Regions from separate parts of the Homo sapiens genome. Here regions 2 and 3 are each linked to region 1. Evidence: fine-mapped expression QTL. Tissue or cell type: atrial appendage. Region 1 holds a variant in brackets; each other region holds the start of a gene. All regions are shown on one strand. Distances are from middle to middle.

Region 1 (2,682 bases):
AAGAGAAGCAGAAAAGGTCAGAGTGATGCAATGTGAGATGAATTTGACCTGCTGGCATTGGCTTTGAAGATGGAGGAAGGAACCTTGAGTCAAGAAACACGAGCAATCTCTAGAAGCTGGAAAGGGCAAGGAGACAGATTGTTCCTGAGGGCCTTCAGAGAGGAATGCGGCCTTCTGGCCCCTTGACTTTAGCCCAGTAAGACCCATTTCAGACTTCTGAACTACATAACTGTAAGATAATACACTTGTGTAATTTTAAGCCACTAAGACTGTGATAATTTGTTGCAGCAGCAATAGAAAACAAAATACATAATCTCTTTCTAGCTGTGCAGTCTAAGAGTTAGTTAAGTTCTCTAAACAGAAGTTTCCTCATATATAATAATAACAATAATAATAATAATAATACTTAACCCTCGGCTGATTGTGAGAAATAAATGAAGAAATGGAAATAAAATGACCAGATTAGTTCTGGACTGAATTGTGTGTTGCCCAAAATTCATATGTTAGAGTCTTTAACCCCCTATACCTCAGAATTTGACTGTACTTGGAGTTAAGGTCTTTAAGGGAGTAATTAAGGTTAAATTAGATCACATGGGTGAGACCCCAATCCAGTATGACTGCTGTCCTTATCAGAAGGAGAACCACCAGAAATACTTGTGCACCAAGAAAAGATCATATGAAGACACAGTAGAAGATGGCCGTCTGCAAGCCAAAGAGAGAGGCCTCAAGAGAAACCAAGCTTGTCAACACCTTGATCTTGGACTTTGAACCTCCAAAACTGTGAGAAAATAAATTTCTGTTGTTAAGGCCCACTCAGTCAGTGGTATTTTGTAGGGAAGCCCTAAAAGACATACAGCTGGTCATACTAGAGAGTCAATAATACTAATTCTTATTATTACTTGTTCCTTCTTAATAAATATGGAAAATAGTACTACTTTGTGGGATTGCATTAAGGAAAACAGGTGATATAAGAAACCTGGGCTCTCCTTTTGGCTCTGAATCCCTGGCAGCAGCATCTTGCCAAGATACACACGTCACATGTGCTCTATGTCTTTTTTTTGTGTTGGTATTTTCTCTCTTTTGGTTAATGATGGTAGATTGAACACATGTGTCTTTCTTCTGATCCTTCAGTCCCATTAAAAATATTTTGAAAGGGATTTTCTTTTAAAGGTATAAACCTTTGAGAACATGAGAGGGAAAAAAAAGCAAAAAAAAAAAAATCTTTGAAGCTGGAAGACAAAAGGATAAAGGGCAACTGACTCAGCAACCTCAGAACATTGAATCCTCAGCCAGCAGTGAGGGAGGCCAAAAGCAAGCTGATAGGGACCTTAGAGATCCAGGACTCCATAATTG[G/C]CAGCATCAGGGATCTGTGAAAGTGTGAGGAGATGGGACAGAAGTGGGGGCTGAAAACCACAAGATCGGTTGGAAATCTATTTACAGTGCACTTAGACTCCTGGATAACCTCTATTGCTTCTCAAAGCTGACAAGTGCCCCTTTCCTTGAAACAGAATACAGAAACTGACTCTCTGGAGACAGTGAACCAAATGGACTCTGGATTGGTGGCCATCTAGCCCCCATTCTGGGTGTAGGGCAGGGATAATGTACTGGAAACAGTAAGGTTTGATGAAAATCTACATATTGAATTCTAAGGACTCCTTATTCCCTTCTCCACCAGGTCCTCAGAAGGCTGGCAGTCTCCAGGCTAGATATGGAGCTGGGGATGGGAGACTCAAAGAACAGCCTTCTTTGAGTAACCTAACCAGTCAAAGAGAAAAGACACAGAGATACTGATGTTGCTGATTGTGACCCTTCTGCCATGAAGCCCCCAGCCCCACTCATGCTCTTTCAAGTCTCTGGTTGGCTTTTTAATATCCTTCTCTTAAATACATGCTGACAGCCCAAGATTGGCAGATACTTGAAGAAAGACTCTACCTAAATGATGCAGACCAAAACTAATCAACAGTGAAACAGGGAATTTGTAGAAAACAGAAACCATATAGGAAAAAATAACTTAAAAGAGAAAAGTAACTATCATTAATCTTAGGAAGCTTTTAAAGCATGTTTTTCAGCAACAATGAAGTGGGCATCCTACCTCTTGGTGACCAACCCACCTCCATCTCTCTGATGATGAGCCCAAGTACTGGATGTGTTCAACTTCACTAGTTTAGACAGGGTCTGGAGTGAGATGGTTCTGGGAAGTGGAGGCAGAAAAGCCAATGGTCTTATTCACATGAACCTGGTCCACCAACTACAGCTGCTAAATCAGGGGATGAGATGAACAGAGGATGAGGGCCTGAGCAGCTCAGTTTCCAGACAGCATGGAGGGCTGGCAGTTCTGACTGCTTTATGCATATGCACTTAATTTGCTTCCCTGGTCCTTCTAAGTGGCAACTCATTAACACCTCCAGGCTGAGGGCTCACATTTTATACTCTAGTTGAATATGCAGTAGCATAATGGAATGTCTACTATGGCTGCCTCTCTGGAAAAGCTGCCCTATTTATTCAGCCACCCTGGAGAAAAGTGGCAGATTTTTTCTTGCAGTGGCAAGAAATACCCGTATGCTGCTTTTAAACACCTTGGAGGTTTAACTTTTTAAATGTTATTCATTTATGCTACTTTGTAACATTATATGTTATATTAATGTTACATATGTAATGATACATGATATTGGGAGGACAGAT
Region 2 (2,682 bases), 120 kb after region 1:
TGTTTCAGGTGTATCATTTGAACTGTTAGTACTTGTGAATCAGTCAAGCATTTCCTAATGCTGAACAGAACAGGAAATAAAGACCCCTCTGGCAGTCTGTGGCTTGCATCCCACAAACCACCGCCATCCGCAGCTTGCTAAGACCACACTCCTGGGGCAAGGCATGCATTCATACACCTACTCTACCTGTGACACCTCTTCTACATGTGCAAATGATTTCACTAAACCTGAAACTTGCTTAGGGGTCAGAAGGAAAGCAAGAGGGAATATAATGCCCTGACTGCAGTCCCTAGTTCCCAGATTCCCCAGGGCCCACTTGTCCTCAGTTGGTGAAACTCAATACACAGACATCCCTCACCAATGCTTTCAGACTCCATTTCAAGTGTGGACTCTGCCCACACTGGTTCTAAGTGACCTACTTTGGCCTCACCTCTTTTCTCTCCACCCTGTCAAACAAGAAAGCGGCTACCTAGGAATACTCTAGAAGTCCGCTGAGTGGTTTTCTGAACATCCAGCTTCTTTACTCTTTCTGGACTCCAAGAAGGCAAGCCCCTTGTCTGATTCATCTTTGTACCTCTCCCATCACCTTTAGCATCGCAGTTGGTACACAGCGGGTGCTTGGTAATGTCTGTCGAATGGCCAAAGGAATAGTACAAAATCTGTGGAAGCGGAAATGGCTCCTCCATTTACCCGACCTTGAACCCTTCCAGAAAAGACCAACCAAATCCCATTAATTCATTAGGCAGAACTCTGCCAGGTACTGGACATTCGGAAACAAATTTCAGGGGGTCGGGGCAGATGGACGGGAAGCTCATGGTGGGTGGATGTACTACAAATTCTATAATCCGCAGTTATACCTCCACTTTCTGGGAAACTTCTCTCCGTGGCCCCAGGGCCCTTTAAATGTTACTATGCGTGTTTTCCTCCATAGTTTCTGGAACAGAACCAAACTTTCGTGTAGGGGTTTGGCAGCGCTCATCCTCACAGCCCTGGGGACCGCTGGCACAGGGGCAAGCGAGGCGTTCGCACGCGAAGGAAACTTGCGAGGAGTCAGGGCGGCCCCGCGCGGGGGCGGGTCGTAGAGTGGGGGCCCTCAAGTCCTAGAACTTCAGGTCCTCCATGAGAATTAGAGGAAGGGGGATGGCCAAAGACGACCAGACGTCCACCGAGCTTCCACAGGCCAGGCCTCGCCCCTCCTCCTGCGGGGCCACAACGCGGGCTCCCCGGCCCGGGACAGCACAGCCAGGGCGTCCGGGCGGGAGGCAGGGCCCGGCGCGGAGGAAGGAGCCCGGGGCCGCCGCCGCCCCGCCCACCCCAGCGAGGCGGAGCCGGCGCCCGGAGGAGCAAGAGGAGGAGGAGGAGGAGAGGTCGGAGCCGTCTCCAGGAGCCCTTAGAGACCGAGTCCCGGCGGCGACGGCGGGGCAGCGCACCGGCAGGCGGGTGAGTACCAAGCGGCGGGCGCGGGTGGTGAGTCGGGTCCCCGCGGGGTCGGGGCGCGGCGCGGGGCGTCGGCCAGCGAGTTCGGGGGCCGCCTCCGAGTCCCGGGTGCTGGGAAGCGAGATGGAGGGAGGGAGCGGAGGAAGGAAGGAAGGAGGGAAGAGTGTCCTGCTGGAGGGCGGGGACTGGTCTGGGCGCTGGGCGCCGGAGACCGGGGGGAGGGGGAGGAAGGGGCCAAGGGACACCGAGACCCAGAGGCAGAAACGGCGCGCGCGCCCTCGACGGGCGGCCGCCCGAGGTTGCGGGAAGCCGCCCCCACGGCTGTGGCTGGGGCTAGGGCTGGGGGTGGAAGGAAAGGTCTCCCCTTGAGCTCGCTTGCCTCCTCGCCAGCCTGCGGCCGTGCGCCCCGCGCCGGGTTGGGAGGCCCCCAGTGTTCCCAGCCGTGGCTTGTGGTGGTGTCAGGCGTTGGAGGAGGGCTGGCATGTGGGGGCGACAGGGACGCCACGCCCCTCTGCCTACTTTCTACCTCCCGGGACCAGCCGGCGGGAGCGCAGCCTTGGAATCCGCTGGGCGCTGGGGGTCTAGCAGGGAAATAGCGGGTCGCAGAGGGGAGAGCCCATATGACGCACCCCGCGAGGGACCCCCGAGTGGGGACCCGAGGCTGCTTTTCTGCAGACTGTATTTGCAAGTGGTAAGGGGGAGGTTGAGGCTTAGTCTTGGGTGATTTTTTTTTTTTTAATTATTGCCCCGACAGTTATCCCGTGGGGCAGGGTGAATTCTGTTTTTCATTTTAATTAGGGCATATCAATTAAAGCTAACTTTAAAACGCTGTCACTTAGCACCTCCCGTCACTCACTCGTCCCTCGCTTTGTGTGTCCTGTAAACTTGGCTTAAATCATTCATAACTCACGATAAGGAAGCCGTGATTCTTGTTCACGTCGCCGCAGTGGAGTGAAACTTTGCCCAACTGGGACTGAGTGGAGGCATTGCTGCGGCCGGTCATCTGGTGGTCATCCTGCCGGGCGTGGTTGTATACAAACAAGTGGGTCGAGAAGGAAATCTCTGAACACCAGAGGTAGAAGGGAGGTTCCTGCGCCCACGTGTCAGGGCGCGTTTAATGGCTGCTCCCAGCGGAAACAAACGGGAATTTATTAGACCGTGTGGAGTTGGACAAACTTCACATGATTAGCTTCCTTCCCATCAGTTACTTCCTCTCCCCCCTGCTGTCTTTGCCGACACAGTTTA
Region 3 (2,682 bases), 99 kb before region 1:
TTTTGAGACAGGTTCTCACTTTGTTGCTCAGATTGGAGTACAGTGGCTGTGATCACGGCTCACTGCAGCCTCGATCTCCTTGATGTGGGAGGCTCAAGTGATCCTCCCACATCAGCCTCCCAAATAGCTGGGACTACAGGCGGCCACCACCACACTGGGCTAAATTTTTTTAAAGTAGAGACAAGTTCTCCCCATGTTGCCCAGGCTGGTCTCTAACTCCTGGCCTCAACCTCCTTATTCTCTAGGATTACAGGCGCCAGGCTAGACCTCACAGGTCTTTAGACTTCTACGCACCAGGTACCTGGTAGGGGGAGGGATTATAGTGGCAGAAGAGCAGTACCAGTGGCCCACACCACACACCCTGGCCTCAGCTGGCTGGGGCACACAAAACCAGGTGCTACCGTCAACGACTAGGCCCATAGGGTACTGCTGTCAAAACCTGCTGCCAACAACTTCCACACACTCCCCAAAACGCTCGGTAGGCGGTGGTGCGCAGCTTTCAATGCATCCGCCGCCAGGCGCTCACAGGCAAGGGAGAAAGAAGCCAGACGGAGCTCGGAGATGTGGAGGGCAGACGCAGGCGCATTTGGAAAAGGGACTGGCGGTGGGAGGCGCAGAGGGAAAAAGGAACGACACAATCGGGCTTCCTAGCCGCTGGCGGACCCGATGGGGCGTCCTGCGAGGGTTCGGCGAGGGTTCTGCCAGGATAGTAGCATTGCGCCCAAGGAGTGAGAGGCACCCGGGGCTACTGGAGCCAGACCCTCAACCCGCCCTAGTGGGAGGCGAAGAACAACGAAAGCCTCGTATTCCCATTTCTCTAATGGCTAATGACATTAAAGGTTTTCATATGGTTATTTGCCATCTGCATATCTTCAGTGAAGTGTCTGTTTATGTCTTCTGACTATTTTCTAATTGGATTTTTAAAAATAATTGATTTTTGAGTTATTTACATATTCTAGATACTGGTTGTATGCCAGATATATGGCTTGTAAATATTTTCTCCTAGGTAAACCTTTTCAGTATCGTTACAGGGTCTTTCACAAAGCAAAAGTTTTAAATTTATGGAGTCTAATTCATCAACATTTCTTTTTACCGGTCTTGCCACTAATGTCAATTTAAGAACCTTTTGCCTAGCCTTAGACAATAGTTTGTTGTTTTTTAAAACCGTTTTGTAATTTTACTCGTCACAGTTATATCTAGCCACTTAATTTTTATGTAAGGGTTATTTTTGGCGGGGGGGAATCTATAGATGTCCTGTCTTTTCAGTATCATTTGTGGAAAAGATTATCTGTCCTGCATTAAACTGCTTTTGGACTTTCGTCTAAAATCAGTTGGACCGGTTTTTGTTGGCAAAGTTTTGCCTGAAGCTTATTCCAACAGGTGAGAAAAAGTCCACAGTTTAACAGTTCCTCCCCAACCTGTAACCCCGCCTTGAACTTCTGGACTAGCCCCTCGATTGTTGTAGATGCCAAGCGGACCTCGCGCCGCTCTGCGTTGGGCCAGCCCCTCACAGCTGGTTTCTTACCACGTATTGCGCAAGCGGAATCTATGCCTGTTACCCACACTCCCTGCGCCCCCGCACCCCGCTCCTGTGCGCAAGTCGGAATATAAAACCGCGGAGGAGTGAGCTCTTGGGGTGTCCAGTTGGTTGCCGCGGCAGTCTCTCCGAGCAGCGCATTTGTCTTCTAGGCTGCTTGGTTCGTGCCTCCGAGAAAGGTAAGTCTTTCTTTCGCTTTTTTAGGGGTACTTGAAAACAACAAGTGTCAGACAAAGCAGCAGATGCTGTTGCGCAGTAGAAGTTTATGGGCGAGTTGTCCCTGAAACTGGAACCAGGTCTTTCTTGGCGCGATTACGCAAGAACCACCCGCAGCCCTGCGGGCTCCTGGCAGGTCCTGCAACTGCACTTTGGATAGTCCCGTTGGGAAGCTAGCACTTTTTAATATAGAAGAACGAGGTTTGATAAGTGTGCGAGCTTAAAGGTTGACACAGTGTCCACTATTACAGCTGCGTAGGTAGCTAGTGTTCAGGAAGTAATAGTGGAGTCATGTAGTGTGAAAGTAAGATTGAAATGGGCGAGGAGGGTAGCAGCCGCCACAGCCACCAGAGAGAAACCTGACCTTGCAGGTGCGTGGTGATGTCCATGAGCCAGGCTGGTGCCGCAACAGCAGCGGCGGGACCTTGAGCTCCGCACGGCCGCTGGGTTTGGACGCCCTCTGGTTCCTGGAAACTTTCACCTCCCCCTCAGCCTGAGGCCAGGTGGCCTGGGAAGGTGGAAGGAGTGTGGAGGGGAGTGGGGGGGGGGGTCCACTGCCTGAGAATGAGAATTCTCTTCACATCTGGAAACTTCAGTTATCACGTGTGTCCTTTACCAATTTTTTTTCTTTTATTTTCTTTTTGATAGAGACGGCGGTCTCCCTATGTTACCCAGGCTAGTCTTGAACTCCTGTGCTTAAGCGATCCTCCCACCTTGACTTCCCAAAGTGCTGGAATTACAGGCATGAGCCAATGCGCCCGGCTGCTTTACCAATTTTCTATGAATGAATTTGTACATACATCCCCTAGAGCAGGAAGTAATGTAAAACAGAATAATTAGTAATGCACATTTCCTAATGTGGGATGTTGGTGGCCAAGAGATATTTGGTCTTTACTGGAACTCTTGATACTAACATGGAGTTTATAATA

Alleles and levels. Positions count from the first base shown, and alleles are read on the strand shown. Sizes are in standard deviations (SD) of each study's normalised expression. Not every link is listed here.
For the expression in atrial appendage of the gene that starts at base 1,637 in region 3, C is the high allele of the variant in region 1 and G is the other (moderate effect, 0.71 SD a copy in GTEx).

Evidence for each region. PIP is the estimated chance that this variant, and not a neighbour inherited with it, causes the effect.
Region 2: GNG12 starts here. The variant in region 1 is fine-mapped to the expression of GNG12 in atrial appendage (GTEx, PIP above 0.99).
Region 3: DIRAS3 starts here. The variant in region 1 is fine-mapped to the expression of DIRAS3 in atrial appendage (GTEx, PIP above 0.99).

What each region holds. Positions count from the first base shown.
Region 1 is chr1:67,950,932-67,953,613 of GRCh38, reverse strand. The region is part of intron 1 of GNG12-AS1 (GNG12, DIRAS3 and WLS antisense RNA 1); the gene reads right to left. Among named protein-coding and RNA genes, the nearest start is that of DIRAS3, 98 kb to the left of the region's middle. The variant G/C (reference allele first, on the strand shown) is at 1,354.
Region 2 is chr1:67,832,102-67,834,783 of GRCh38, reverse strand. It overlaps GNG12 (G protein subunit gamma 12), which reads left to right and starts at 1,317. Exons shown (of 4, transcript NM_018841.6): 1 at 1,317-1,440. It overlaps GNG12-AS1 (GNG12, DIRAS3 and WLS antisense RNA 1), which reads right to left and starts at 2,496. Exons shown (of 10, transcript NR_040077.1): 1 at 2,348-2,496.
Region 3 is chr1:68,049,582-68,052,263 of GRCh38, reverse strand. DIRAS3 (DIRAS family GTPase 3) reads left to right here and starts at 1,637. Exons shown (of 2, transcript NM_004675.5): 1 at 1,637-1,716. All of the region lies in intron 2 of GNG12-AS1 (GNG12, DIRAS3 and WLS antisense RNA 1), which reads right to left. It also overlaps the pseudogene ARL5AP3.